2 separate regions of the Homo sapiens genome follow, and region 2 is linked to region 1. Evidence: fine-mapped expression QTL. A gene starts in region 1. The other region holds a variant in brackets. All regions are shown on one strand. Distances are from middle to middle.

Evidence for each region.
Region 2: its variant is fine-mapped to the expression of BST1 in whole blood (TOPMed, PIP above 0.99).

Annotation. Positions count from the first base shown.
Region 1 is chr4:15,693,802-15,709,826 of GRCh38, forward strand. BST1 (bone marrow stromal cell antigen 1) reads left to right here and starts at 9,264. Exons shown (of 9, transcript NM_004334.3): 1 at 9,264-9,531; 2 at 11,714-11,840; 3 at 13,710-13,845. The coding sequence starts at 9,344. RefSeq lists an enhancer at 1,334-1,930 and a silencer at 9,203-9,282.
Region 2 is chr4:15,726,741-15,742,765 of GRCh38, forward strand. It overlaps BST1 (bone marrow stromal cell antigen 1), which reads left to right. Exons shown (of 9, transcript NM_004334.3): 9 at 5,000-6,047. The coding sequence ends at 5,105. It also overlaps the pseudogene RPL10AP7. Among named protein-coding and RNA genes, the nearest start is that of BST1, 32 kb to the left of the region's middle. The variant C/T (reference allele first, on the strand shown) is at 6,743.

The sequences.
Region 1 (16,025 bases):
ATGGGCACAAATCTTTGCATAGATGTATTTTCATTTTTCCTTTGGTAAATACCTAGGAATGGAATATCTTCTTTGGTGAGGCATTTGTTTAACTATTTTGCCAATTTTAAGATGTGGTTGTTTTTCTTATTTTTGAGTTTGTTGGATATAAAAAGCTCGAGGAATAAATGCTCGGTGCCGTGAAGTAAAACCAGCAGTCAGGCAAAAGTTTAATCCTGTCAGCAAGGCAATTGACTTCTGCAGAAGGGTGCCACTTGCATCAACTAAGATCGCAAGAGCACAGAGAACAAAGGAGACTGGGGGGTTTTTATATCCTTAACGCAATTCCTACTTCTGTGTCCCTCCCCCATGGGTAGGGTCAGACTGCACAATCTGAGCTGACCCTATTGGCTACTTGTACATATTTTTCTAAATATAAAAGGGGAGGGGGACGTGAGCTACAGAGGTGGAGCATGTGAGACGTGCAGTTTCAGGGACACAATGGGTGCAGGTAACCAAGGGAATAGATGTGAGTTATTGATTAGGGATGACAGAAAAGGGGTAGGCTGTTTTACAGTAACTAGGGACAAGGAGGAACAGGAAAGTTGAGTTTGAGAACAAAAGACAAGGAAGTTAGCAGGCTACATTTTTGAAGAGAAACTCAGAGAAATTCATTGTATCTTACAACTCCTCCCTTTTAAATTTTCTTATGATTTTTCTCTTCAAACTCTTTAACATGTCTTGGCTTTGCCGTTTGTTTTGATCTTCTAAAAGGAAAAGCTTACTTGAATAAGGTGGAGGAGAACTAAGGGAGGCTTTAGTAAGTGCTGTTTGTACAATCTTTTGTATTTGCCTATGGATGCATGGTATGACACATCACCTAACGAGTTCGTCTAGTACGATTGCAAGAGAAATAAGAATTGAGGCTATGTTTCCTTTATATTTACCAAACCACTTTCCTAGCCATTCTGAAATAGGGTCATTGACTTCAGAATTTTTAGTTAATGCATTGGATAAAGCAGTAAATCCCTGCAAGGCCTTTGTTATGCTTCCATTGGGAGCAGTGTTGTTTGGGATGAAGGTGCAATATTGGGTTTTAATTATAACACAAACCCTACCTTTTTTGGCTAATAACATGTCTAGAGCTATTCTGTTTTCCCAAGTCATTTGGCTAGTAGGCCTTAATTGGTCAGCTATTCCTTTGATAGCATCCTTGGTGTAATTAATAAACTGTTGCTGATTATAATAGATGTAATTTATCCAAGCCACATTTTTATTAATAGTTACCTGTGGAAATATGGATTTAAATTCTGCAGCTATTTGGTCATGGACTTTGAATCTGTTAGGCACTTCTTGTGGGACTCCAATGACGTCTATGTTAACTTGAGAGTCAAAAGATCCATAAGAGGCTTTTCTTCTTCTTTTTTTTTTTTTGGCGGGGGAGGTGTTGTGGTTTTTCTTTTTCTGGTTGATGAAATGTCAGGGTGAAAGGGATAGCCAATTAGACAAGAGTGTAAGTACCACTCCAGTTACCTGGCAGAGTGTCCAGTAAGTGTTCACCACAATACCACCATACATCTGTTTGAGGATGACTAAGGGCAGACTGATGAGTAAGCTCCTGGAAAGGCTTAAGCTCACGGCATCCCATTAAGCTTCCAAGGAATGCCAAATTCTCCCCCTGTGGTGACAGACACAAGGTGAAATTGACGGGAAAAGGAAGCTGAGTGGTCCTCGGGGGCTGACTCGCAGGGTGTTGGACTTCGGGATATAGCAGAGAGAGAGCCTGGCATGATTTGTTGCCCCAAGCCGTAGAATCCTGGAAGAGAGCTACCATGCAGCCCATGCCCGGTCGACTGGGAGACCATCCGAGTGGAAAGGGGACTCTCTGGGCCTCCAGCCGGCCATGCACACAAGCATAACAACTGCTTTTATTTAATGTACTTGGGAGGTGAGCATGCACAATGTGTTTAGGAAGCTGTATGCATGCCATCTGAGGCTTTCTTCCATTTTCCAGGGGAGTGCCCCTGGAAGGTCATACTCCACCATTTTGTCTCTTAATGTACATGCCCTGGAAGTTGCTTTTCCCTGGTCTCTGCATTCAATTAACCGTTTAGTGCCGCAGGTGTGGACCATAAGGAAATGGCCTCTCCCTGGTGTCAGCTGCCAATTTATCACTTTTAAAGAGGCAATGTAATAAGTGCCAAACCAACACCCGACATTCCTAGTGGGTGGGGGAAGAGCCCTCTCCTGCTGCACTCATGCCTGTCTAACTACATGTAACACACAGAACTTTTTCTTTTTTTTTTTTAAGCTCATCAGCTAATGCTAGTGCTTTTTATGTGTGGCTGAAGTTAGTGTTAGTCTTATGTTAGTGTTAGTGTTTTTTATGTGTGGGTTATTCCAATGTGGCCCAGGGAAGCCACAAGATTGGACAACCCTGTTTTTTACATACATGCCTTTGTCAGATACATGTATTGCAAGTACATCCCAATTTGTGGATTGCTCATTTTCTTAGTGGTGTTTTTTGAAGAGCAGAATTTCTTAGCTTTGATGAATGTCAATATATAAATTTGGTTTTTGGCTTTTGGTACGTAGACCCAAAATAAAATAGATATAAATATCCCCAAGAGCATAAATAATAGCAACATGTAGTAAAATAATTAAGAAGTTATGTATTTTGGATGTTTATTACCTTTGCTTTTATTTATTTTTTTGAGACGGAATCTGGCTTTGTAGCCCAGGCTGAGATTGCAGTGGCGCAATCTCAGCTCACTGCAAGCTCCACCTCCCAGGTTCACACCATTCTCCTGTCTCAGCCTTCCAAGTAGCTGGGACCAAAGGCACCCGCCACCACGCCCAGCTAATGTTTTGTATTTTTAGTAGAGATGGGGTTTCACCATGTTAGCTAGGATGGTCTCGAACTCCTGACCTCATGATCCACCCGCCTCGGCCTCCCAAAGTGCTGGGATTACAGGCGTGAGCCACTGTGCCCGGCCTGCTTTTAATATAATTTATTTTATTGTAAGTTTATATAATTTAATTTTTAATATGACTGTGTTTAACAAATGGCTCCCAGATTTTTGATACATTTTTGAAAATATACCTGTCAAATATTGTCAGCCGGTTTCAGTGCATGACTGCCTGTGGTATCATTTAACATGTCCCTCTATCCTCTATATTTCCTGAAAACTGTAGTTAAATCTGAAAGTTTGCTAGATTCAGATTAGATAGATAGATAGATAGACAGACAGATGCATGGATACTTCAGAAGTGGTGCTGTGTATTTCCTGTTGCCTCACACATCAAGATAAAGTCATGTTTTGAGGGTTTGTGAGGTATGAAAGACTTCTTCCCTCAAAACAAACTCATCCCCCATGACAATGAATAAGATGAATATAAACAAAATGAAAAAGGAGTAAACCATGAGGGAAAAGAGAAAAGAAGAGGAGTTGTCAGGAACAGAATTTGGGATGGTGGAAAGAAAATGAGGAAGGGGTAACAATTTAGTTGGCCAGTGAAGGCTGAAACCTCAGTTGGCTAGTGGGGAAAGAGAATGTAAGCTGTGAAGAAAGTTGTTTGATGTCATGAACCCTCAAAAGGAAGAGGAATTGGAAGAAAGGTCTGTCACTAACATGAAAGTGGGAGTGGATGTAGGGCTGGAAGTCAAAAAAGTAGTTGGAAGTCCAAGAATGCCCTCCCTAATCCTGTGCAGCAACATATTTCCTGAAGAGTAGACCAAAGATTCTAGGTTGTGGGGTACCAGGCATCAGTGAGGCCAGAGCTTCTACTAAAAATGTGGTGAGAGAGGAGGGATAAGTGAAAATCTTTATACTGAATAGTGAGATTCTCCCAGCCACCTTCCCCCACTCAGCTCCACATTGCTATCATCCAGGCATATATCCTTCCAGGTAGAAAATAGGAATATTAGGCCAGGCACAGTGGCTCACGCCTGTAATCCCAGCACTTTGGGAGGCTGAGGCGGGTGGATCACGAGATCGGGAGATCAAGACCATCCTGGCTAACATGGTGAATCCCCGTCTCTACTAAAAATACAAAAAAAATTAGCCAGGTGTGGTGGTGGGCGCCTGTAGTCCCAGCTACTTGGGAGGCTGAGGCGGGAGAATGGCATGAATCCAGGAGGCAGGGCTTGCAGTGAGCCGAGATCACGCCACTACACTCCAGCCTGGGCAACAGAGCGAGACTCTGTCTCAAAAAAAAAAAAAAAAAAAAAAAAAGGAATATTACTCTCTGGAAAAACGGACTGTCCAAGAGAAAATGACAGGTATCTCTTAGTGATAAAGTGCAGTATGTTCATCCTACAGGGCAGCCCACCCTTTGACAAACTCTGACCATTTGCCTTGAGCCTGCTTCTAATTAGTGCCTGATATGGTATGGCTGCGTCCCCAACCAAATCTCATCTTGAATTGTAGTTCCCACAATTCCCTCATGTCATATGAGGGACTCGGTGGGAGGTAATTGAATCATGGGGGTGGGTCTTTCCCATTCTCATAATAGTGAATAAGTTTCACAAGATCTGATGGTTTTATAAAGAGGAGTTCCCCTGCACAAGCTGTCTCTTGCCTACTGCCATGTAAGACGTGCCTGTTGCCTTCTGCCAAATTACCCAGTCTCAGGTATGTCTTTATCTGCAGTGCGACAATGAACTAATACTGTTCCTTATGTTTTTCTGTGTTTGTAAAAATAATCAGCCAAAGGTCATCAGTTTATTTGAGGGAAACTTCTCACATTAAAGCCAGTCACCAAAATGGAAATAAGGCACTCAAAGGAAACAGACATTGGCAGAAGAAAATTTAAAAGAAAAATGAAAAACCTACATCTGTAATAAAAGCCTCAGAAATATTCACAAAACAGCAAGAGAAGATTATAAAAAGCAAAAAGACCTGAACGTGTAGAACACAACTGTATATATAAGTATATATATATATATATATATATATATATATATATAGTATAAATTTAAAAAAGCAACAGAGAAGTTGGAAGATAATGATAAATTTATATTCAAGAAAGTATAAGAAGACAAAGAAAAAAGGTGAAAATATAGAAAATTAAAGACTAGGAAGTCTAACAAGGAAATCATTCCTATATGAGTAACAGGAATTTCAGAAAGAGAAAACAGAATTTGGAGGAGGGGAAATTACCAAAAAATTGAGAAAATATCTCAGTATTTAAAGACATGAGTTTGTAGGTTAAAAGGGCTCATGGATTGTCCAGTACAATGAAAAACAACTACTTTTGCCCAACTTCATCTCTGAAATTTCATACTCCTAAGAATAGAAGGAAATTCTGAAAATTTCCAGATAGAAAAAAAACAGGCCAAAGAATAAAAAACAAAACAAACAACAACAAAAAAGGTCAAATAAACAGGAATAGGAAAATGGGTTCAGATTTCTCAACAGCAACACAGAAAACAATGGAACACAGTCTTCAAAATTTTGAAGGGAAATGCTTTCCAATGCAAAAATGTACCCAACCAAATTCTCAATCAAGTGTGAGGTTAGAATAATGACACTTTGAATTCTTATGCAAAAATCTCAGACATCCAATCAAATTCTCAATTAAGTGTGAAGGTAGAATAATGACATTTTGAATTCTTATGCAAAAAATCTCAGAAAGTTTAGTCCCTGTGTATCTTCTCAAGAAGCTATTGGAAGATGTGCTCCATAAAACAAGAAAGAGGAGGATGTGAGATCTAGTTGTATTAGTTCGTTTTCATGCTGCTCATAAAGACACACCTGAAACTGGGAACAGAAAGAGGGTTAATTGGACTTACAGTTCTGCATGGCTGGGGAGGCCTCAGAATCATGGCATGAGGTGAAAGGCACTTCTTACATGGCAGCGGCAAGAGAAAAATGAGGAAGAAGCAAAAGTGGAAACACCTGATAAACCCATCAGATCTTGTGAGACTTATTCACTATCACCAGAATACCAGAATAGCATGGGAAAGACCGGCCCCCATGATTCAATTACTCCCACCCTGCCTCCCCACCCCCACCCCAACCTAGCTCTCTCCCACAACACGTGGGAATTCTGGGAGATACAATTCAAGTTGAGATTTGGGTGGGGACACAGCCAAACCATATCATTCCACCCCGGCCCCTCCAAATCTCACATCCTCACATTTCAAAACCAATCATGCCTTCTCAACAGACCCTCAAAGTCTTAACTTCAACATTAGCCCAAAAGTCCACAGTTCAAAGTTTCATCTGAGACAAGGCAAATGCCTTCTGCCTATGAGCCTGTAATATCAAAAGCAAGCTAGTTACTTTCTAGATAATGATTACCTCCAGGGTAAACAAGAGGTTTACAACAAATAAAATGTCATAATGTCCCAAACAGAATAATGTCCCAAACAGAAACATCAAGAAATAGCATATAGGTATTGTATTAGTCTGTTCTTGCATTGCTATAGATACCTGAAACTGCTCATTTATAAGAAAAAGAGGTTGAATTGGCTCACAGTTCTGCAGGCTGTAGGAAGCATAGTGGCTTCTGCATCTGGAGAGGCTTCAGGAAGTTTCCAAATGTGGTGGAAGGCAAAGGGGGAGCAATGGGTCTTACACGGTGGCAGCAGGGAGCAAGAGAGAGGGAGGAGGTGCTACACACTTCTTTTTTTTTTTTTTTTGAGACAGAGTCTCACTCTGTCACCAGGCTGGAGTGCAGTGGTGAGATCTCAGCTCACTGCAACCTCCGCCTCCCAGGTTCAAGCGATTCTTCTGCCTCAGCCTCCCGAAGAGCTGGGACTACAGGTGCGTGCCACCACGCCCAGCTAATTTTTGTATTTTTAGTATAGATGGGGTTTCACCATGTTGGCCAGGATGGTCTCGATCCGTGATTCCCAACACACCCCCCACACCAGCCTCCCAAACTGCTGTGATTACAGGTGTGAGCCACGGCGCCCTGCCAGTGCTACACAGTTTAAAACAACCAGATCTCACTTACTATCATGAGAATAGCAACAAGGGGATGGTGCTAGACTATTCTTGAGAAACCCACACCCATGATAAAATCACCTCCCACCAGGCCCCACCTCCAACGTTGGGGATTACAATTTCACATTAGATTTGGTGGGACGAGCCATGCCAGGGATGCCCCAAAATTACTAAACTAAAGGGAAAAGTCAGGCTGGGAACTGCTCAGGGCAAACTTGCCTCCCATTCTATTCAAAGTCATTCAGCTGCTCACTGAGATATATGCATATTCTGATGGCCTTCTTTGGAAAGGCTTATCAGAAACTCAAAAGAAGGCAACCATTTGTCTCTCACCTACCTGAGACCTGGAAGCCCCCTCCGTGCTTCGAGTTGTCCCCGCCTCTCTGGACAGAACCAATGTACTTCTTACATATATTGATTGATATCTCATGTCTCCCTAAAATGTATAAAACCAAGCTGTGCCCTGACCACCTTGGGTACATGTCGTCAGGACTTCCTGAGGTTGTGTCATGGACACGTGTCCTCAACCTTGCTAAAATAAACTTTCTAAATTAATTGAGACCTGTCTCAAAATTTGCGGGTTCACACATGTTATTTAGAAATATGGAAGTAAACACAGGAACAAAACTTGAAAGAATTAAAAATGCTTTCCTCTGGAAAGTGGATTTAACTTAAGGAGGAACTGAACAGGAGAATGCGGGTTTTGGTTACAGAAAAAAAGAGATTCAAATAAAACAGTAGAGAACACCTGTTCTGTCCTCCCTTGTGTTTATCAAGTGCTTGCCAGGCACTCAAAGTTCATTGCTGTCATTATTGTAAGAATTGAGGACTTGGGCCTCCACGTGGTATTCTATTAATACTGGCTCTTTTTTTTTTTTTTTTTGAGACGGAGTCTCACTCTGTTGCCCAGACTGGAGTGCAGTGGCCCGATCTCGGCTCACTGCGAGCTCTGCCTCCTGGGTTCACGCCGTTTTCCCGCCTCAGCCTCCCGAGTAGCTGGGACAACAGGCGCCCGCCACCGCGCCTGGCTAATCTTTTGTATTTTTAGTAGAGACGGGGTTTCACCGTGTTAGCAAGGATGGTCTCGATCTCTTGACCTCGTGATCCACCCGCCTCGGCCTCCCAAAGTGCTGGGATTACAGGTGTGAGCCACCGCGCCCGGCCAATCCTGGCTCTCTTAAACTGAACATCTCCAGGATTTTGCATCTATCAGGAAGGGATATTGTGACCTCTGACAAGTTACAGTCGGCGGTAGGTATCCATGGAGAATTGGTTCCAGGAACCTCCTGGATACCAAAATCCACAGATGCTCAAGGCCCTTATATTAAATGGTGTAGTATACAGTATTTGCACATCCTCTTCTATAATTCACGTCATCTCCAGATTCCTTGTAATATCAAGTACTATGTAATTGTTACATAAGTAGTTGTTACATTGGATTATTTAGGGAATGATGACAAGGAAAAAAAAGTCCGTACATGTTCCGTACAGATGCAAGCATTCTTTTTTTCCTCAAATGTTTCTCATCCGTGGTTAGCTGAATTTGGATGATGAATCCGCAAATCTGGAGGGCCGAACATGCTTAACTTCCCTGAGTTTATCCATTGCTAAAGCGAGAGAAATTACAAACTTAGCTAGGAAGGGTGTTGCGGAAAGTAATTAATATTATACTTGCAAAGTGCTTGGCACGTTGTTGTGGTTATTATTTCCTGAAAACAAACAAACACCACTTATTGGTTGGTGTGAAAGAGGGCATCTGTCAAAGTTGTCGTCCTTTGGAGCCAGAAAAGTATTTCTTCTGATGATGACTGACCTCTCCTCACCTCTCCTTCAACCTTGCGGCTTCTTTGGGGCTCCCTCCCCGTGGACAGCGGTCAAGATTAGCCTGGGCCACAGTGCACTGGTCCTGTCCTGGGTGATGTTCCAAGCTCACTCTTTTTTAATTTTATTTATTTATTAATTTTTTTTTTAGACAGAGTCTCACTCTGTCGCCCAGGGCTGGAGTGCAGTGGTGCAATCACTGCTCGCTGCAGCCTCGATCCCCTGGGGTCAAGCCTCCTCACATCTCACCTCGCAGGTAGCTGAGACTACAGATGCGCACCACCAGGACCAGCTAAGTTTTGTATTTTTTTGTAGAGAGGAGGTTTCTCACCTGTATGTTACTCAGGTTTGTCTCGAACTCCTATACTCAAGCGATCCGCCCGTCTAGGCCTCTCAAAGTGCTGGGATTACAGGCATGAGCCGCCGCGCCCCGCCCCACGCTCAGTCTTGAAATTGTCTGGAACGGGAAACGGCAAACAGCGAGATATCCGAGCGAGAGTCCCGCCCTGCATCAGTTTGCGGAACCGCCTTGGTAGAAGGAGAGAAGGGGAGTGGAGGAAGCACGGGACTGGAGGGACCAAAGTTCCCCGATGGCGGCCCAGGGGTGCGCGGCATCGCGGCTGCTCCAGCTGCTGCTGCAGCTTCTGCTTCTACTGTTGCTGCTGGCGGCGGGCGGGGCGCGCGCGCGGTGGCGCGGGGAGGGCACCAGCGCACACTTGCGGGACATCTTCCTGGGCCGCTGCGCCGAGTACCGCGCACTGCTGAGTCCCGAGCAGCGGTGAGGCAGTCGGCCGGGTGGAAGGGGAGCCGGAAAGAGGCAACGGTGGGGAGGGCCTGGGGAGGGGAAAACTGGCGCTAAAGTTCGGGGTGAGGGGGCAATGAGAGAGGCCTTGAGGGGAGAGGTGAGTGTGGAGACAGCGATGGTCCTGAACGATGGGGGCGAGTGAGGAGGGGGCTGTGAAGTGTGTCTGCAGGTGAGGGGTGCGCTGTGCGGGGTCTAGAGATGAGTGTGTGTGTGTGCGCGCACACACACACTGTAGAGGTGAGGGGTGTGTGCGTGTGTTCTAGAGGTGAGGGGGGTGTGTGTGTGCGCGCGCTCTAGAGGTGGGAGGTGTGTGTGTGCTCTAGAGGTGGATGTGTGTGTGTGTGCTCTAGAGGTGGGGGTGTGTGTGTGTGTGTGTGCTCTAGAGGTGAGGGGTGTGTGTGTGTGTTCTAAAGGTGAGATGTGTGTGTGTGTTCTAGAGGTAAGGGGTGTGTGTGTTCCAGAGGTGAGGTGTCTGTATGTGTGTTCTAGAGGTGAGGGGTGTGTGCATGTGTGTTCTAGAGGTGAAGGGGGTGTGTGTGCGTGCGCTCTAGAGGTGAGGGGTGTGTGTATTCTAGAGGTGAGGGGTGTGTGTGTTCTAGAAGTGAGGGGTGTGTGTGTTCTGGAGGTGAGATGTGTGTGTGTGTGTTCTAGAGGTGAGGGGTGCGTGCATGTGTTCTAGAGGTGTGTGTGTATCTGTGTTCTAGAGGTGAGGGGTGTGTGTGTGTAGTCTAGAGGTGACAGGTGTGTGTGTGTGGTCTATAGGTGAGGGATGTGTGTGTGGTCTAGAGGTGAGGGATGTGTGTGTGGTCTAGAGGTGAGGGGTGTGTGTGTTCTAGAGGTGAGGGGGTGTATGTGTATTCTAGAGCTGAGGAGAGTGTGTGTTCTAGAGATGAGGTGTGTATGTGTGTTCTAGAGGTGAGGGGTGTGTGTGTGTTCTGGAGTTGAGGGGTGTGTGTTCTAGAGGTGAGATGTGTGTGTTCTAGAGATGATGGGTGTGTGTGTTCTAGAAGTGAGAGGTGTGTGTGTTCTAGAGGTAAGGGATGTGTGTGTGTGTGTGTTCTAGAGGTGAGTTGTGTGTGTGTTCTAGAGGTGAGATGTGTGTGTGTTTGTTCTAGAGGTGAGGGGTGTGTGTGTGTAGTCTAGAGGTGACAGGTGTGTGTGTGTGGTCTATAGGTGAGGGATGTGTGTGTGGTCTAGAGGTGAGGGATGTGTGTGTGGTCTAGAGGTGAGAGGTGTGTGTGAGTGTGAAGGAGGGTGGAGAGGTATCCCTCTAGAAGTGAGGGTGGGGTAGAGGTGAACTGGGTAACAGCCCATTGCCACCCAGCAGATGTTTAGTCTGAATACTCAGAACCCAGAATGTGATCTCAGGTTGGAATTCCTTGAGTCCAGTCCTTCCAGAATTCAAATTTCAGATCCCCTAAATCTGGAGGATTTCTGAAGTTTGGGTCTTTCTTGCCAGTGCTGCATTTCTTACTGATTTTTGTTCCTTCTGTGGCCCCCCTTTTCTTATGTTTGTGATGTCTTTCTTGTGCTGATCATTTTTATTGTCGCACATTTCAGGCAAATAAGAAACAGCAGAGAACCACCTGTGTTACACACCACCCAGTATGAGAAACAAAGTTACAAATGCTATGGGAAATATTTTTTGAAAACTAGCATGGACCTCAAGAGGGGCTTGCACTGGAGGGTGCACCTGCTTTGCCAGAGGTGGAAGCCTTTTGCAGCATTGGGCCTCCCTCCTAACACTACACATCCTGCTGGCTGGCCTGGCCTCACCTGGTCCCCGAGCTCCACACTGGAACTGGACTATGAGACTGGCCCCACCGTTAGGTCTAAATGAAGAGGCACCTGCTGTATAGTTGACTGAATTTGTCACCTCCTGCTCGGTGCCATTTCTGCTTGTCTCCGTGAGCCTGGGGCAAGGCTGTATTCCTTAGCTCTGAGAAATCTGTGCAGTGCCTTCAGAGAGACAATTCCAGTGTCAGATTTCTGAATCTGTCACCTAAGCCATGACAATTCGTTGTCTTTTTTGTAAGCCTACTTCTGCAGTTACTATATGAAAAATCTCTTGTAAAGCTCTTAGACAAATGGGCATACTTCACAACACATTATGATGTGCATGTGTGTGTTCTTCCCAACTTGTACTTTTGCACAGGAACAAGAACTGCACAGCCATCTGGGAAGCCTTTAAAGTGGCGCTGGACAAGGATCCCTGCTCCGTGCTGCCCTCAGACTATGACCTTTTTATTAACTTGTCCAGGCACTCTATTCCCAGAGATAAGGTAACACCACAACCATCTTGGGTAAAACTGTGTTCTCTGTCTCTACAGAAATGGATGGTGCATGGGCCAGGTTGACATTAGCTGTCCCCTGCATCCTGCAATGTCACAGAAACATCAGGCAGCACACATAATGTGTGTGCTGAGCTCTCTGTGGGAAGCTAGCTTTGTTTCTGTATTAGTCCGTTGTCACATTGCTATAAAGAAATGCCTGAGACTGGGTAATTTACAAAGAAAAGAGGTTTAACTGGTTCACAGTTCCACAGGCTGTACAGGAAGAATGGCAACATCTACTTCTGGGAGGCCTCTGGGAGCTTTTACTTCAGCAGAAGGCAAAGTGGGAGCAGGTGTCTTACATGGCACGAGCAGGACCAAGGGCAGAGGGAGGTGCCACAGGCTTGTAAACAACTGGATCTTCTGAGAACTCCCTCAGGAGAACAGCAGCAAAGGGGGAAATCCACCCCCATAATCCAATCACCTCACACCAGGCCCCACCTCCAACATAGGGGATTACAATTTTACAAGAGACACAAATCCAAATCATATCAGTTTCCAATAGTGATTGTAGATCTCCCGCTGGTTGTGGGCAGAAGAAAATTTCCTAAGTTAGCAAGTTAGTGTGAGAATCAACATGAGGACATCAGGACATGGCCATACCTGTCACACTGGGCCTCCACATCTGGCCAGTTCTAAATAACCTTCATCCTAACTGGCCCAATGGCCTGAACCTTGAGTAATTCAGAAAACTCTCAATCTCAGTATCCTCCCGGGAGACCAGTCTCTCCATTTAACGGGTCTTAAGATTATATTTATTTAGTACCAGTTTATTTAAGAAAACCACATATCTATATTCTGTATACACTCTCAGGTCTAATAAAATGAAAATAATGAGAAAATTTCCATAAAACCCTTGCTTAAAACAATACCTCAAGTTTAAGGAATGCTAGACACCATTTTTGTTTCTGTGACATAAACATTGTTAACCTGATTTTTTCCATTGTGTGTTATTTGTAAAGGCAAGTAAATGGAACTGTGAGGTTCAAAGATAGAATAGACTGAAAACATGATTTTTGAGTATATGCTGTCTTTTGAACCTTGCTGCCCTCCTGTCACTAAAAGTGGGGAAGCTGACTTTTTAACCTTCTGTTTCATAGATTCGGTGCTAGTTGATGAACTCAGTAAATACTTCCGGGGCTATTTGTTTGCCAGTCATTGGTGCTAAGGGTTAAGGATGTAACAGTGAAAAACAGCCCTCACCCTTGGGGACCTTCTAGTCTAAATATAAACTGATTGGACTACTGAGGGTCAGATGAAATAGTGACTGGGGGATTTGTGTTATTGTTATATAAAAACACTATGGTGGAAACTATAAAGTATAATATAAAAGCAATGTGTTTTTGAGGCACTTGACACTTTAGGAAGTGCTTTTTGTGACTGCTTATTATCCTGGCCACAGCTCTGGAAGAAGAGAAAGGGCTCATGCTCTGCATTTTCCAGAAGTAGAAACTGAGAAACAGGGAGATTGCATGCCTTGCTCAAGATTACATATCTAATACATGACAGAGCCAGGATTCCAGCCCAGTTCCCTTGATCATTTTTAATGTAGGGGATCTTACCACATGCACGTATATTTAGTACTAGTGAGAAAATATTCCATTAACATTTGCATGATACCCTGGGAATAAAGGGAGGAGAGATGCTAGCAGTCTTTGAATGAATAAATAAAGACAACGAAAAAGAACGTTCAGTTGTTGTGCAGCAGGTCAGAGTTGAATGAGAACTGGATTGCCCAACTTGCCTTGATGATATTGTGCCTGAGGAGTCGGTTTTGATTCTGTTTTGTATTTTGATGTTTTGTTTGTCTTTCCTTAGTCCCTGTTCTGGGAAAATAGCCACCTCCTTGTTAACAGCTTTGCAGACAACACCCGTCGTTTTATGCCCCTGAGCGATGTTCTGTATGGCAGGGTTGCAGATTTCTTGAGCTGGTGTCGACAGAAAAATGACTCTGGTAAGACTCCTGCACAAATCACAGGAGACTTAAGAACTCCTATTTACTATGCATTACCATTTGTGCTAAATGCTTTCATATGCATTTATTTCACTTGATCCTCTCCAAGTCCTCTGAGATAAGTGGCAAGAATAGTTAATAATAACAATACTAGAGAATACTTAACTTTGCAGGTGCCAGTCTAAGCACTCTCTCTCTCTCTCTCTCTCTATATATATATATATATATACACATATATATACACATATATATACATATCTATACATATCTATATCTATATATACACACATACTCATTTGATGCCCACAACAACCTCATGGGATCCTATCATAATCCCCATTTTGATAAATGAGGAAACTGAGGCACAGCAAGATTAAGAAATCTGCTCAGGGGGCATAGCTAGTAAGCAGCAGACAGTCTGACTCCAGAGCCCATTTTCTCAACTTTGCACAACTCTGCCTTACTATCCTCATTTGTCCAGAGGGGGAAGCTGAGGCTTAGGGAGGTTAAATGACTGGAAGTGGTAAGGCTGGGTCTCAGTCCTGTCCTGATGGATTCTGAAGCCTGTGCTCTGTAACACCACTCCAGGCCGCCGGCAGATATTTCGAGATCCAAGTCACAAGGAAAGTTAGAGTCACAAGAGCTGGCCTGAATGTTCTGCAAACACTCCTCATTCATCCAACTGTGGTGCTAGGAGCTGGAGACACAGCAGTCCCCATCTTCAGGGAGGTTATAGCCTCATGGGGGATATCAGCTCGAGTGATATGGGCTATAATGCAGGAAAAATGGTGTTCGAGGAGTAGCAGAGTGAGACACCAGCCTCCACCAGATCATCAGGGAAGCTTCAGAAGGGAGGCTAGCAAGGAAAGGAGGTTAGGGAGTGTTTCCATTATGAAGACTGGAGATCCTTCCTGGGTATCAGAGTTACTTCAAAAGTTAACCTAATATCAGGCCGGGCATGGTAGCTCACGCTTGTAATCCTAGCACTTTGGGAGGCCGAGGTGGGTGGATCATTTGAGGTCACGAGTTCGAGATTAGCCTGGCCAACATGAAGAAATCCAAACTCTACTAAAAATACAAAAAAATTAGCCAGGTATGGTGGTGCATGCCTGTAATCACAGCTACTCGGGAGGCTGAGGCAGGAGAATCCCTCGAACCCTGGAGAAGGAGGTTGCACTGAGGCGAGATCATACCACTGCACTCCAGCCTGGATGACAGAGTGAGACTCGGCACACACAAAAAAAAGAGTTAACCTAATATCAGTTCTGTTTATTTCTCCTCCATTCATTTGTCCATCAAACTAAAATTTATAGTGTCTACTATGTGCCAGACCCTCATCTTCTAGACAGTAGGAAAACAGCAGAGAATAAAACATGAAATTAATACCCCATGCTTACATTATAGGAGGGCAGATAAGACAATAAACAGGCAAGTGAAATATACAGACTGCCTTAAGATTATAAGGGCTATGGAGAAAATTAAAACAGGTAATAAGGACAAAAAAGATTGAGGGTGGAGGGCCAGGGAAAGGAAAGTGTTGCATTTTTACCTAGATGCCGAGGGAAAACCTCACTGATAAGCTGATATTTGAACAAGGACCTGAAGGAGATGAGAAAGAGCATTTTCTGATGGGAGAACAGCAATTGCAAAGGCCCTGAGGTGGGAGCGTGTGTGACATATTTAACAGCAAAGAGGACAGTGGGCAAAGAGGAAAGTGTGAGCTATGAGGCTAGAGGAATAAAGGAGGGCCAGGTGGCACAGGATGTTGTGAGGCCTCTGCTTTTCACTGTGAGTGAGATGGGCAGCATTGCAGGTTCCACGTCAAATGGACACAGCCATTCTTTCAATGGAGAACTTCCAGGAAGCTTTTGTTTGATGATGCTGCAGAGGGTGGGGAGAAGGAGGGGAGGAATGTGATGAAAAACACATAAAGAAAGGGAGAGCCTTCCAGAAAACCACCAGTTATTTCTTCTTCACCTCGCTGCCCTTTTCTATCTATGCCCTCCTATCAGGGCTCTTTGTTTCAGAAAGAAGTGAAGTCCAGCAGTTCAGGTCAGCTAAATAACCATATGTGTATGTCATGGAATCCTGTGGGGCCAGCAGCAATGGTGATGGGGTTTTTTATTTATTGACCCAGAAAGGGGCATGTTTTTAAGCAAAAAATAAATTTACATAACCCT
Region 2 (16,025 bases), 33 kb after region 1:
ACTGCACCCTACACCACCATTCCTGAAATGGGCAAATGGTGCCATCCTAGCACCAGTGCCTTGGGTTAGCTCCCCTGCTGCAGGAAGAATAAGGAGAACGAGGGTAGCTCTTCTCACTTTTCCTCGGTATTTTTTTTTTTTTTTTTTTGAGATGGAGTCTCGCTCTGTTGCCCAGGCTGGAGTGCAGTGGCGTGATCTCGGCTCACTGCACCCTCCGCCTCCCGGGTTCAAGCAATTCCCCTGCTTCAGCCTCCCGAGTTTTCCTCAGTATTTCTGAGCACTTTGCAGTGTCAGGCTTCCAGCTGGCACTCTGGAGTCATCATCTCATTTTACTCCAACCACATTCCTAGAAGGAAGACAGTTTGATTGTCATCAATGATGCTGAGGTTCAGAAGGATTAAGTGATCATTTAATGTTACTCAGAGGCCGAAGCAAAACGGAGATTTGTCTGTGTGTAAAGTTCTCATTCTTCCTACCACACCACACTGCCTTAAAATGTCTCTGGGTCTCACACCACAGCAGGTAAGTAAGGGGTTTGCAGTTCCTGACCTGTTCTTCCCTGTGTGTGGGCATTCTTTCAGTGACTGTTGGTAGACATTTTTGACAATTCTGGCTGATTCCTTTGAATGTCAAGGATAAAACTCTCTTTCACTCTGCCAAGTTTTTCACCAACTTTCATCACCCTGGCAGGAATTTTTCTAATCTATTTTTTAAACATTCTAGCTGTGAATAGTCATAGATAATTTACAAAAGAGAAACCACAAATAGCAAATATACAAAATTATTTAATCACTCTAATAATAATGGAAAACAAATTCAACAAGGTGTCATTTTCACCTAAACTTTCTTGGCATACATTAAAACATAGCAGAAAAATGTTTTAGAGATGTTATTCAATGCTTGATGTCACTGTAAATTGATAAAGTGCTTTGGGAAAACAATTTGACAATATGTGTCAAGAATTAGAAAAATATCACAGTCTTTGACCTAGGTCACACTTTAGGGTACTTTTGGTGCCCTATTCCAAACAAGTGATTTGAAATGCACATACAGCCTATATGCTCAAATATGTTCTCCAGAGCATTCTTTATAATACTGAAATACTGGGAACTGGACTCAAATATCCACTGACAAGTAAACAGTTACATCAAAGGGTACACTTACTGGAGGGAGTAGAATATAGCCCTTAAAGACAATGGTAGGATAATCATACAGCAAGCAGAAGACCCCATGAATAATCCAAGGGGAAAAAACCAACCTTAGCGCTTATAGGTTATAATATTGGCCAAAAATTCAGTAGACTTTTAATCTGCAGGATTGGTGATGATATGAGAAAACAGACATATAGTACTGGAATGAGGACTCAGTGTGGCACTAAGGGCCAAAGGCAAACATCAGATCTTTTAACTTAGCTGGAAGGCTCTATCCTAAATGCCCCAGGCCACAGAGACAGGACTACTCATCTCTACTTGTTTAGGAATAGTGGGGTAAAGGGCTTTTAATCTGCAAAGGTTTCAAATGAAATAAACAACTGTTGATGTAAATCCACCCATTTTATTAATAGTTTTGTGGTAAATTTAGGGACAATCTGTATGTTTTGGTATTTAATTATTGGCAATATTTTAGAGAATGTAGCATATAAGAACAGCTGTTGGATTAAACCTGTGATGCCAGTATATGGGTTACTATTAAGTAACTAATTCTTTTTCTTTTTTTTTTTTTTTTTTTGGAGACAGGTTATCGCTCTGTCACCCAGGCATGGAGTGCAGTGGTGTGATCATGGCATATTGTAACCTCAACCTCCTGGGTTCAAGTGATCCTCCTGCCTCATCCTTTCAAGTGGCTGAGACTACAGGAGCAAGCCAGCACTACTGGAAAATTTTCTTTTCCCTTCCTTCCTTCCTTTTTTTTTTTTTTTTTTTGATGGAGTCTTGCTCTGTCACCCAGGCTAGAGTTCAGTGGCTTGATCTTGGCTCATCACTGCAGCCTCCACCTCCTGGGCTCAAGTGATTCTCCTGCCTCAGCCTGCCAAGTAGCTGGGCCCACAGGTGTGAGCTACCACGCCTGGCTGATTTTTGTATTTTTAGTGGAGATGAAGTTTTACCATGTTGGCCAGGCTGGTCTCAAACTCCTGACTTCAGGTGATCCTTCTGCCTTGGCCTCCCAAAGTGCTGGGATTATAGGTGTGAACCACCATGCTCAGCCAAGTAACTGATTTTAGGCTTGGGATTTTTAGTAGGAAGTTATAAGAGAATTTTACTAAGTTTTGAACCAGTATTGGAATTTGTAAAAGAATTAAGATTAAATTTTATACATTTATTAGGTTTACTACAATCAAGTAATTGAGAAAGTTTTGCTAATTTAAAGTCATTTAAAATATTTTTTAAAAAAGATGTAATATTTTAATATTTAAGTTGAAAATAACCTGAAGCCTTGCCCAGTGGCTCATGCCTGTAACCGTAGCACTTTGGGAGTTCAGTGCGGGAGGATCACTTGAACCCAGGCATTCAAGACCAGCCTAGGCAACATGGCGAGACCCCGCCTCTACAAGCAAACAAACAAAAAATTGGCTGGGTATGTTGGTGTGCACCTATGGTCCCAGCTACTCAGGAGTCTGAGGCAGGAGGATTCTCTAAACCCGGGAAGGTCAATGCTTCAACGAGCTGTAGTCATGCCACTGCACTCCAGCCTGGGTGACAGAATGAGACCCTGTCTCAAAGAATAATAATAATAATAATAACTTAACCTGAAATAACTTGAGTTTAAAACATCACAGGAATTAAGTAAGTGTGACAAATCCTTAAGAGTTATTGTCAGAGTTCACCAGGTTTTTAAATAGAACAATGTGATTTATAAATTAAATAAAAGGGCATGGGAAAATTAGGCTTTTGAGTATATAAATGTAATAACAAGAATCAATTTTAAAAATCAAAGTAACTGCAAATAGTGCAGTTACCCCCTCAAGTATAGTCTCACATTGACAAGAAAAGGTTTTTAAGCTACAAAGTGAGAAACCAATGCACAGAACATGAACCGAGACATGTAAACCAGAAGAAAGCAAAACAGCATGTTTCTATTTGTGCATGATAATGGATGTAAGTGATAGAAATAGGTCTGAGAAAGTAAACTCCAAGCACCTAACTGTGGGTTCCTTCTAGGCAAAGGAATAGAAACTGGAAAAAGATGAAGGGAGGCTGTCATTATTAGTGTATCTAATTATGTGTTATTTTATTTTTTAAAAAAGTAAAGAAAAATGTAACCTTATGTTAATTAGTTAATTATTTGAAAGCAAAAGTAATTTTAAATTTTGAGTGAATCGAGTCTGGGACATTAACTGCATCACAGGTGCAATTGTAGAAAATGTCCGGTAGGTGGAGCACTAATACAAACCTGTGGGTCAGATTTCTTTAGCAAAAAAGAGAGGACCAGCATTCAAATGGAGTCAGGAACTTTTAAGGACAGGGCCACTAGTCCAGAGCCATGGGATATATTTCCAAGCCAACATTAGATGGTTTCATAATTTTAAAATTCATCTTTTAGTTGGTTTAAAAGAATTCAGTAATTTCTGTTTTTACAAACCCAGTGGCCAGATACTGTTTACTATGAATAGGGTCCATATTTTGGGCAGGCCCTCTGTTGATGTCTTCATGTCAGGACAGGTTTTTCTTCACCACTTAAACTCTGATCATGTAATAGCCATCAGTAGGAAACCTGGCTAACACTGTGTTCCATCCGTACAATAAGAATTCATCCACAAGGAAGAATGAGTTAACTCCCTGTGTACCAATATGGAAGCATGTTCAAAATATGATGTTAGGTGAAGAACGCACGTTGCAGATTCCATTTGTGCTTAGATAAAAGGATATCTAAAGACATCTAAGGATAATTTGCAGGGCAGCAGCAGGTCCTGTTGTCTAGAGAAGCTTTTTGCTCAGGAAAGAATGTCTTGAGATGGTATTTCAATGACGTGTGTGCTCAGGATTGCAGAAATAGGAATTAGTTATATTGAGCAGGTTCAGCATGCATGTGTTCATTGCATTCCTGGAAAGAGAACTCAAACTATCAAAGTTGGTTTTCTATGGAAAGTGCAAATGGGGAGACTAAGAGACTTTTACTTTCCACTTTATAACTTCCTATATACTATGTACATTTCTCCACAGTGTGCACAATTTGCTTTTTTTTTTTTTATACTGGTAGCAGTAGAATTTATTCAAATGTGCCTTAATATAGGCACTGGGGCTTGCCTATGGTGCTCTCGATATATAAGGCCCGGACATTCTGCCAGTTTTTCTGCCAGTTTTTCTTGAGCAATGTCACCAAGAAGTTGACAGGCAGGTGACTGTTACACACAAGCTCATTGTCTGTCCTTTTCACGTGGCCAACAGCCACAGCCAGACATAACACCTTCTTCATGTGGAAATTGATTACGGACTTCATCTCATCCACTTTGGCCACCATGTTTTCCTTGTGTGTGAGCAGGGAGGGGCAATTTCCTGCCTTATTTAGGACTGGGCCGAGGATTCGTGGGATCTGCTTGATCAGAGACTCTGAGGCCAAAAATGCATCATACTCTTGGCCAGTTTCTTGACCAGTTTCTTATTCTTGTTGAGTTTTTTCAGTACCTCGTTTTCCATGTGGTGGAAATCCACAGGCTTGGCCTTGTCACGGTGCTGCTGGTTACCCAGGACACACATGGAGAACTTGGGGCAGGGAGTGGACTTAAGCCTGACGGTGCCCGAGAAGCGCTTGTCCTTCTGGGGAGTCATAGTTCTTGAAGCTGATCTGCAACTCCACCATCTCCAGAAACTTGGGGTGCTTGCGCTGGTTTCGGTGCAGGACTTCGCGCACCGCCTCCTACGGGGTGTCACGGGAGACTTTGCTGCTCATGGCTTCTCGCTCCGCGCTAACCAGAAAAGAGACTAATACTGCACATATATTTTTGAGCGTAGATTCCATACACCAATACTGACACTTTCTCTATTTCCTTGTTAATTTGCAGGGCAGCAGCCGCTACTCAAAGAAAAGCCCCAAGTCTTTATACAGAACAAAGGGCGGGTCTTATCATTCCCCTCTTTCTGGTGCTGGCTTCCAGGACTCAACTGTAACTGGAAACTGTGTTGCTCTAACCCTCCTCCAGCCCTGCAGCCTCCCCTTGCAGTCATCATTCGTGTTCTGTGTATACCAAATGATTCTGTTATCTAAAGAAGCTTTTTGCTGGGAAAACGATGTCCTGAAAATGGTATTTCAATGAGGCATATGTTCAGGATTTCAGAAACAAGAAGTTAGTTCTATTTAGCAGGTTAAAAAATGCTGCATTAGAATTAAAGCAAGTTATTTTCTTATTTGTATAATGACACAAAGCATTGGGAGTCAGACTGCTTGTATATTATCAAACATTTTAAGAGAATTCTAATAAAGCTGTATTTTACATCATCTATATTTTCCTATATCTCCAGCAGCACGGACACTGCATGCTTGTTGATTGCTTAAGACATATGTATACTATATAAATGTATGCATATATGGTCTGCAAAGTTTTCATTTTTCATTTATTTGGTATAAAGATGTTCAGTTAATGGTTCCTTTTTGTTTTGAGAGACAGAGTTTCGCTCCTTTGCCCAGGCTGGAGTGAGGTGGGGAGATCTCAGCTCACTGCAACCTCTGCTTCCAGGATTCAAGCGATTCTCCTGCCTCAGCCTCCCAAGTAGCTGGGATTGCAGGTGCCTGCCACCATGTCCAGCTAATTTTTGTATTTTTAGTAGAGATGGGGTTTCACCATGTTGGCCAGGCTAGTCTCGAATTCCTGACCTCAGGTGATCCACCCACCTCAGCCTCCCAAAGTGCTAGGATTACAGGCGTGAGCCACCACATCCAGCCATAATAGTTACTTATAATGAGGGAAAAACCCAAAATATCCAGTAATATTTACATATTTACTGAAACTGTTTGGAACTTGTATTAGTTTGTTCTTGCATTGCTATAAAGAACTGCCCGAGACTGGGTAATTTACAAAAATAAAAATAAAAAAGAGGTTTAATTGACTCACAGTTCTGTGTCCAGAATTGTGACAAAATTGTGACAACCTCTGGGTTTTTGGTCTTGCTGACTTCAAGAATGAAGCCATGGACTTTTGCAGTGAGTGTTACAGCTCTTAAAGATGGTGTGTTCAGAGTTTGTTCCTTCAGATGTGTCTGGAGTTTCTTCCTTCTGGTGGGTTCGTGGTCTCGCTGACTTCAAGAATGAAGCTGCGGACCTTCGCGGCAAGTGTTACAGCTATTAAAGGTAGTGCGGACCCAAAGAGTGAGCAGCAGCAAGATTTATTGTGAAGAGCGAAAAAACAAAGCTTCCACAATGTGGAAGGGGACCCAAGCTGGTTGCCACTGCTGGCTCGGTGGCCAGCTTTTATTCCCTTATTTGGTCCCACCCACATCCTGCTGATTGGTCCATTTTACAGAGCGCTGATTGGTCCATTTTACAGAGTGCTGATTGATGCATTTACAATCCTTTAGCTAGACACAGAGTGCTGATTGGTGTGTTTACTATCCTTTAGCCGGACACAGAGTGCTGACTGGTGTGTTTTTACAGAGTGCTGACTGGTGCATTTACAATCCTTTAGCTAGACACAGAGTGCTGATTGGTGCGTTTACAATCCTTTAGCTGGACACAGAGTGCTGACTGGTGTGTTTTTACAGAGTGCTGACTGGTGCATTTACAATCCTTTAGCTAGACACAGAGTGCTGAT[C/T]GGTGCATTTACAATCCTTTAGCTAGACAGAAAAGCTCTCCAAGTCCCCTCTCGACCTAGGAAGTCCAGCTGGCTTCACCTCTCTGTTCCACAGGCTTACAGGAAGCATGGCTGGGGAGGCCTCAGGAAACTTACGATCATCATGGAAGGCAAAAGGGAAGCAGTCATGTCTTACATGGCCAGAGAAGGAGGAAGGGAGTGAAGGGGGAGGTGCTACATGCTTTCAAACCACCAGATCTCGTGAGAACTCTGTCATGAGACAGCACTAGGTGATGGTGCTAAACCATCCGAAACCACCTCCGTGATCCAATCACCTCCCACCAGACCCCACCTTCAACACTGGGGATCACAATTCAATATGAAATTTAGGTGGGGATACAGAGCCAAACCATATCAGAACTATTTACATGGGTTTTAGAATATTTGTAGAATGGAGTATCATTCAACAAGTAAAAGCCATGTTTACCAATTCACATGTCCTTCAGATGGTGAAGGAATAAACTAACTGGTAAATCTACACCATGGAATACTACTCAGCAATAAAGGTAACTACCTTGATATATGCAGCAATATGGATGAAACCCAAATGTGAGAGCTGCCGCACCAAAAGGCCACCAACTGTATGATTCTATTTATATGACATCCTCGAGAAGGCAGAACTATAGTAGCGGAGAGCAGACCAGTGATTGTGGGGGTTGAGAATGATCAGGACTAGAAGGAGGCGCTGACTGCAAAGTGACACTGAGAAAAATTTTGGGAGCGATGGAGCTGCTCTGTGTCTTGATTGTGGTGGTGATTGCATGAATCCAAGTGTTCGTCAACACTCATGGCCCTGTACATGAAAAAGAGTAAATTTTATTTTATGTAAACCAAAAAGAAATGTTTTCAAAGAACATTTAATCACATAGGAAAATGTGTAAGAGATAAAATATAAAACTTAATTATATGATGAAAATGTCTAAAGTATGATACAAATTTAATATATTAAAATATAATATATATACGGGAAATCATTCTCAAAATTGTCTCCTCCACCAGTCGACTAAACTTAGGGGTTTACATAGCAGGAAGGAAATGTAACTATATGTGAGAAAACAGGAATGGGGGAGGGGTAAGGAAGAGAAGCTGCTAAACAGGAGTCATGATGGATGAAGGGTCTGGCATCTAATTGTGTGGATGTGGTGGTCTGGTGAGTTTCGGTTCCTTGATACTAACTGGTTGCCTAAGGGTCAGTTTCCTGAAGAAGGAATTCAGATAAGACAAATGTAAGTTTCAATCTTAGATGAGAGGGTCAATTTTCATGTTTATCCAAAAAACAGTAGACATCACTTCTCTGGGACAGCTGGGCTGGTTTCAGTCGGACACTGCCACAGGGAGCAGGCAGGAGCGGGAACCAGGCCACGCTCAGAAGGGTTAAGGAAAGAGACTTTGGGAAGTGAGACTGCAGAGGAATGAAATCCATGAAAACCTGGCATGGTAGAATGTTCATTTGGTGTAGACACTGGTGTGTATTGTAAAAGCGGTATTAGCTTCTTACAGAAGGTGTGCTCAGCTGGGCTCCTCTAACCAAGTTGCTTGGTGCTCTACCCAGACGTGCTCTCTACTCTCTCCCTCCTCAGGGTCTTTGAACATGTTGGTCTCTCTGTGTTGATTTTCCTTCCTGCCCTGTCTCCCATCTGGCAGACTCTAAGACATACCTTAAGCATCACCTCCTCCCTGGATCCTTCTGTTGACCTCTCTCCCTGCAAAAAAGCAAAGAATTCCCTAACAGGGCCCATCTTCATGGTGTCAGCATTGTTTGGGTCCTTGCCTAACTTCACCCTGGGACTGTGGCTTCTTTGCAGACTCACTCATCTTTGCAGCCCTAGCCTAGCCCTGCTTGGATGAAGTAGACCTTCCACGTGTGAATGAACTAAGTTTAATAGAGGAAAACAGAGGGTGGGGGATTCTTTAGCTTTCTTTTGTTGGAGGAGGCCAGGGAGGGTACAAGGGAAGCTTAATAACAAGGTGTGGCATGCTTTTCTGTATTTATGGCATACTTTCATAAAACACTTGAAGTGTGTGATATTGCTAGGGTGTGTGAGGGGAGCCGTGAGGGAAGATGACAAGCAGCATAAGACTTTTGGGTACTTAGAGAAAGAGAAAAGGACCCAACCAACCAACTTCCAATTCATAATTCATGGTTTGTCTCAGGACCGTCTGGCTCCTTAGGCCAATCCCATGGGAGCCCCAGCCAAGGGGCGTCTCTTAGACCAAGCTTGGAAAACACAGTGTCTGCTGCCTTCATGTTGCCTGGGTTACCAGGCGACTTAGCCACTCACAGCACAGTGACCTGCGACTCAATTAGAGAAATGCCATTTTGAGTTCCATAAGAAAAATAAGGCTTTATTTTTAAAAACTAAACATAACTTCACTTTTTTCCCGAATATAAGAGTAATAATGGCTCTTTACTTGAAAAAAATCTACACAATACAGAAAAATTAGGAAGAAGGCAAATCTCATCTGTCATACTGCACGCAGAGTAGCAGACATTTTTCTATGTGTTTTTATGCACATATTTATATTTATAGACCCAAGAGGCTATGTGGGACATTAGGAGTGCGACCCAGAGCAGAACCATACAACCGCCGGTTCTAGCCTTTGTACAAGGTAAATCATGGGTTTCAAACATATCATTGCCTCCTGACTGATCTCTCTGCTTCTGCTTGGTTTCTCCTTCAGCCTAACTTCCACAATGCTGCCAGAGCAATGTCCTACGCTAGGGTCCTGAGTGCATCGTCCTCTTGCTCAAAATCAGCAATGGTTTCCTACCCTTGGCAAGACAAATTTCAAATTTTAAAATCTGCTCTTCAAGAAGCCGGGCGCAGTGGCTCCTGCCTATAATTCCAGCACTTTGTGAGGCCAAGGTGGGCAGATCACTTGAGGTCAGGAGCCCTGGACAACATGGTGAAACCCTGTATGTACTAAAAATACAAAAATTAGCTGGGCGTGGTGGCACGTGCCTGTAATCCCAGGTACTCTGAAGGTTGAGGCAGGAGAACTGCTTGAACCAAGGACACAGAGGTTGCAGTGAGCCTAGATTGCTCCACTGCACTCCAGCCTGGGTGATAGAGTGAGACTCTGTCTCCAAAAAAAAAAAAAAATCTGCGATTCAAGATCTTTCCATTTGCCCCTAAACTGCCTTACTAGGTCTGTGTCCCAGGAGACCCCACTGCACTCTCCATGAACCTTCTCTCAGTTCCGTATTCTCAACATAAGCCTTTGGATCTGGTACCTTTGCTCACCTCCTCCTCGAAGCCTTACTTAGTTCCAGATCCATTTGTTTTTATGTCTCTCTCTCTTGAGGACAGCAACTTTACCTCTTTGTCTTTGTGTCTGTCATAATGCTTTACCCTGACCAGCCATGACCTAGTCAGCATTTGATCAGATTGGGTGAGAACCTTGGGTTTGGGGAATCAAGACAAAGGAAATGGGGAGGCAGCCTAACATTGTGGCCAAGAGCATGGACTCTGGCACCTAACAGGTTGGCCCACATCCTACCTTCAGCACTTGCTCGCTGTGTAGCCTTGGGCAACTCACTTACCTTACCTGAGCTGCATCACCGTGTGTGTAAGTAGGGATTATAAGTACTCATAATTCAATGAGCGAATGTGCATAAAGAACCCAGAACAGTGCCAGGAGTATAGTAGATCAGCCCTGTATAAGTGTTATTTGCTAGTGTTATTGTTACTACTACTAGAGTTGTTTGATAGCTGTCTAAACACCATCTGCAATACAGCACTCTCTGCAGATCAGAAGTTACTGTGCACTGGGCACTGTGTGAAGTATTTTCATAAATGGCCCCTTTCAATCCTCACTCGACCCCATAGGATCAATTCTCTTATTATCCTATTTTACAGATGAGAAAACATAGACATAGAAAGCTTTTCTTACTTGGCCAAGGTCACCTCTCTTGGCCTCGGTTCCTCCATGGTCTGGGCAGCAAGGGGGCAGCAGGGAGCCCTGGCAAAAGCAGCTAAGAAAACCAGCCTCGTGTGTCTTCAACAAACAGGTCCCAGCACCAGCTCCATGCCTGGCACACTTAATGGGTACTTAATGCTCTTCTACCAAGTGAATGAACAATGCTAAGCATTTGACCAAAAGAGAAATGCACATGGAAGACCCCTGAGCACAAGGACTGGGTGGGCACATGAAGAACTGAGTTCTCTTTCCTCTCCTGTCGTAGGTACCAGGTACCTTACACTTGGCTGTATTCCCTCTAGCACGATAGACTTGGTAACAAGGTACTTTCTGAACCTGAACAGGAAACTGTGGGAACCATGATGGGGAAGATACTGACTGTCAGAGAGTCCAAAGATGTAAATGCCTTCCACTCCCACAGCAAGGAAGCCGAAATCTCCAGAGGCTCTGGCAAGAGTTGAGTCAATTGCATGCCTGCCTAGTCCAGCTCCGTCCACATGAATGCTCTCCACAAGCTTCAGAGGAAACAGGATAAAATGGACTCCCAAATATTTAGGGTGGTGAAAATACTCTGCATGATACTAGAATTGTGGATACAGGTGATTATATATGTGTCCAAACCTACAGAAGGTACAACACCAAGGGTGAACCCTCAGGTAAACTACAGAGGCTGGGTGACCATGATGTTTCAATGTCGGTTCATTAGTTGTGACAAATGCACCACTCCACCACTCTGGTGGGGATGCTGCCAGTGGGGGAGGCTATGTATGTGTGGGGACAGAGCGTATGTGGGAAGCTCTGTACTTTCTGCTCAAATTTGCTGTGAACCTAAAACTGCTCTAAACATTAAAGCCTATTCAAAAAAATGAAAGCCTAATTTGAAAAGGAATTTCAGACACTTGGGAAAAAGAATAATGACGTCTATAAGTCATTCTTTGATAAGAGAGTCGGTCAGTCTGGTGTGTCTAGTAAGGTAGCAGAGGGACATTCACAAAGACCGGAGAATACAAAGATGTTAAACAGGGTGAGGAGTCTATGATGTTGGTCAGTATAAAAGGAGAAAAAGATCCTAAAAACATTCCTAAATATTGTTTGATTTAAAAATATATGTTGGAAGGCAAGAGAGTTTGATAAAAAAATAAAAATAAAAATAAAAAACCTTGATGGGAAGTGGGAATGACCACACGTTAGCCAGCTGATAGCTTACCTGTTTGAAGTTCAGCTTCCACACGATTGTTACAGACGGAACTGTGTTCCCTCAAATTCATAGTTCGTTATGGCCACCCTGGTAAGCTAACACAACAATGAAAATTTCCAAAGTAAAGACTAGAAGCAGGCATGTGCCAAGTGAACACTAGCTTTTTTTATTTCTCCTGCTGTGAAAATTGAGGTTTGCCAAAGGTGCCAAATGAACATGGCTGATTGAGAAGTAATCCCAGTTCCACTAACCTGAGAGACAGCCCAGGCAAGCGGACCTAGCTCCTAATGCTCATTTCCATTTCAGTCTTTCTGAAGTTTCCCAGGGTGAGAAAGTGGAACTCAGGACAATGAATCATCATTGGAGACTCTGCAGTTGCTAGAACTTAATTCACAGGCATTTGAAACCCAGAACTCAGCCTTACTCTTCTCAGGAGACTTTTGGCACCAAAGAGAAGGGCAAATTGAAAGCCCATGCTGGAGAACAGGGCACAGCTATTGCTGAGACTGGGAGCTTGTTTTTAAAGACCTGGCAAGGGTTTCAAACACCCACATGCATAACCAATGAAGCAGGTTGGAAAATCTGAACTATGCTAATTTCACCATAATTACTCATTACTTGAAGTCTTATGTATTTGTGTTTTCTTGGTAGTCTCTTTAAAACATGTTTCAATATGAAACGTATATGTATTAAATCACTCCGCTTAGAATTTTAGGAATATAGTTTTGTTTTTCCCCCTAAAAGATGTAGAATGCAGCAGGTTCTCTAAAGCACATGTATTCTTTGTTACGTGATTTGGTTCTTTGGAACTTCTTTTATCATGTAGCTATTAAAGGGTAGCTGTCAGAATTACCCAAACTCTTCACTGAAATGACTTACTTATTTGAGAAAAATGCATGTTAAGAAGCCAAACCGTGTGTGTGTGTGTGTGTGTGTGTGTGTGTGTGTGTGTGTATTTCTCCCCTGCACAAAAGTAGAAGGGTTTTCATTTGACTTGTGCCAGCTGCACCTTCATGACTTTGCTATAGGACATGTGACACAGTAACTCTAAGATGGTGCTTGTAAAATTTTAAAATAGTTAACATACAGTGACAAGCTCTCAGGGGAACACATTAAACTCGATTAAATTTTGTAGGGTAAAAAGATGTGTACAGAAATATAATCAGAGTGAAGTCATTGTTCACCATTGCTGCTAGTAATAAAATTTGGTGGTAGGAGGGGGAAGGAGAAAGGGAGGGAGGGAAGTCGGTGAGAGAGAGAAAAGGAGAGGGAGACATTGACAGAGAGAGAGACAGACAGACAGAGAAACAGAGAGAGACAGAGAAAGAGAGGGAAGAAGGGAGAGAGAGAGAGATAAGGATAGAGAGAGACAGGGAGAGAGTGTATCTCCTGATCCTCACTGGCTGATAACTAAATTAGTTGGGGGCAGGGGGGACTGAATCTCGTTCTGTCACCGAGGCTGGAGTGCAGTGGCACCGTCTCGTCTCACTGCAACGTCTGCCTCCCAGGTTCAAGTGATTCTCATGCCTCGGCCTCCCTAGCAGCTGGGACTACAGGCACACGCCACTATGCCTGGCTAATTTTTTGTATTCTTTTTGCTAGAGACGGGGTTTTGCCATGTTGACCAGGCTGGTCTCAAACTTCTAACCACAGTGATCTGCCCGCCTTGGGTTCCCAAAGTGCTAGGATTATAGGCATGAGCCACCATGTCGGGCCTAAATTAGTAGTTATTATCTACTTTCATTTGTGGGATGAAGATGAAACAGAGTCCTTTGGGATTGTGCACTGGGGGAAACCTAACATAGTCTAGTATCGGGAGAGGAGGCTTTCCAGAGAAAGTCTTCCTTAAGTTGAACCTGAAAAAACGAGAGCTATTAGCCAGATGAGAGGTGAAGGTGTGAGGGGGTGGATTGGAAATATTTTCAGGTAGGGAGACTAATCTATACAAAGGTTTATGTTCTCAACTACTGAGTTTGTCTTCAGCATTTGCACCTTATTTAACAAATTTATTAATTTGTTAAATTATAACAAATATTTGACAGCAGAGCTGAGGATATTAAAATAAAATGTAATTTTATTTCTTATATGTTGGTGAAGAAGGAGCAGCAACAGAGGCTGGAGCATTATTTACAAGCCAAACTATCCGTCTGGAGATTCCCAGTGCAGCAACTGGGACGGGGACTACTGAATCCCTCAGATTTTAGGCCATAGGCCAATGAACATTTTCTGTAAAAGGTGAAGTAATACTTTTAGCTTTGCTGGCCATGCAACCTCTGTCGCAACTACTCAACTCCGTGGTTCGTGAGGGGTCCACAGGGTTCATTATCCGTCATGAACCGCAGAGTTGAGTAGTTGTGACAGAGGTTGCATATATTTACTCAGCCAATATTTACTGATGATATTGATTAGGAGTCTTGGGAAGAGCAGTGACAGTTTTTTTGGTATTATATCTAGCGACAAAAGATTGAATTTGGCCGTTACTCACTCCTCCTCCAACAAAGTTGTCAAACGGGGCTGCTACAGACAAGTAGAATCACAGATTGGAGATCAGCTGTCATTATGTAACAGCTGGATTGGCAGGCTTCCCTCTAGGGGCCATCCCTGTCTACAGCTAGAGTGGACAGGCCAGGGAGGACACCATACTTGGAGTAGAGTAACCTTGTCCAGGAGTAAAACATGGCCCGAGAATTCTGTGCTCCTAGCAATCCTATTATTATAGAAGTGCTTCCTGATAAGGGAGGAAGGGTAGGAAGAGGAAAGCTGAGGCAGATGGATGGGGAAAGTACTGAAACATTCTGTTCACATCCTCAATAACCTTCATGAAAAATCAGTCATAGATGCTGGAATCTCCAAACCTCCAAGGGGCTTACAACATTGTGTGCAGGGAAACCTCTAATTCACAGCCTTATTGAGAGCATGTGTCAATGGCCCATAGCAGGGGCCCATTCTGGCTTTTGTACAACCCCAAAGACACACGTGGGTTTTCCATTTTTAAATGGTTGAAAAAAATCAAAAGAAGAACATTATTTCATGGCGTCTGAAAACTACATGAAGCTCAAATTTTAGTGTATAAAGTTTTACTGGAACTCAGCCATGCTCATTAGTTTGTGCTTATCTATTCCGCTTCTGAGCTATTGCAGAGTTGAGCAGTGGCAACAGAGGTTGCATGGCCCGCAAAGCGAAAAGTATTATCTCACCTTTTACAGTAAATGTTCATTGGCTTATGGCCTAAAGTCTGAGGGATTCAGTAGTCCCTGTCCCAGTTGCTGCTCTGGGAATCTCCAGATGCATAATATGGTTGGTGCATAACGCCCCGGTCTCTGTTGCTGCTGCCTCCTTCACCAACATACAGTACAAACAAATAAAACTCCATTTTATTTTAACATGCTCAGCTCTGCTGCCAAAGCTGTGACAAGCCCAGAAGCAGTTTTTCAGGGTTTGAGATGGAGAAGAAGGTGGTCTCTTCTCTTGCTCATCAAGGAATCCTCTTTATTATTTAAGCCAGATTAAGTTTGCTATGGTTTGAATGTTTGTCCCTCCAAACTTCATGCTGAGATTTGATCCTCAATGTGGCAATGTTCAGAGGTGGGGTCTACTGGGAGGTGTTTGGGTCATGGGGGTCAACCCCTCATGAATTAATTACTGTGCTCCCTTGGGGATGGGTGTGTGAGTTCTCACTGTCTTAGTTCCCTTGAGAGCTGGCTGTTAAAAAGAGCCTGGCACCTGTCTCCCTCCCTCCTTGGCTTCCCCTACTGCCATGTGATCTCTTTGCATACTTTGGCTCCCCTTCCACTTCCACCATGAGTCGAAGCAGCCTGAGGCCCTCACCAGATACAGATGCCTAATCTTGAACTTTCCAGCCACCAGAATTTTAAGCCAAATAAACCTCTTTTCTTTATAAACTGCTCAGGCTCAGGTATTCTGTTACAGCAACACTAAATAGACAAAGACAAAGTTGTTGACTGACTTTGAATTTCTTTAGAAGCAGACCTGTGACAGAGGATAAGTCCAGGGAGTTCATTTGGGAGGTAATAAACTACCTGAAGGTACAGGAAACACTGATGAAGAAGTGGGAATTGAGTTAGGGATGGCAGGAAGCCAATACAGTGTTATCAGGCTGTTATC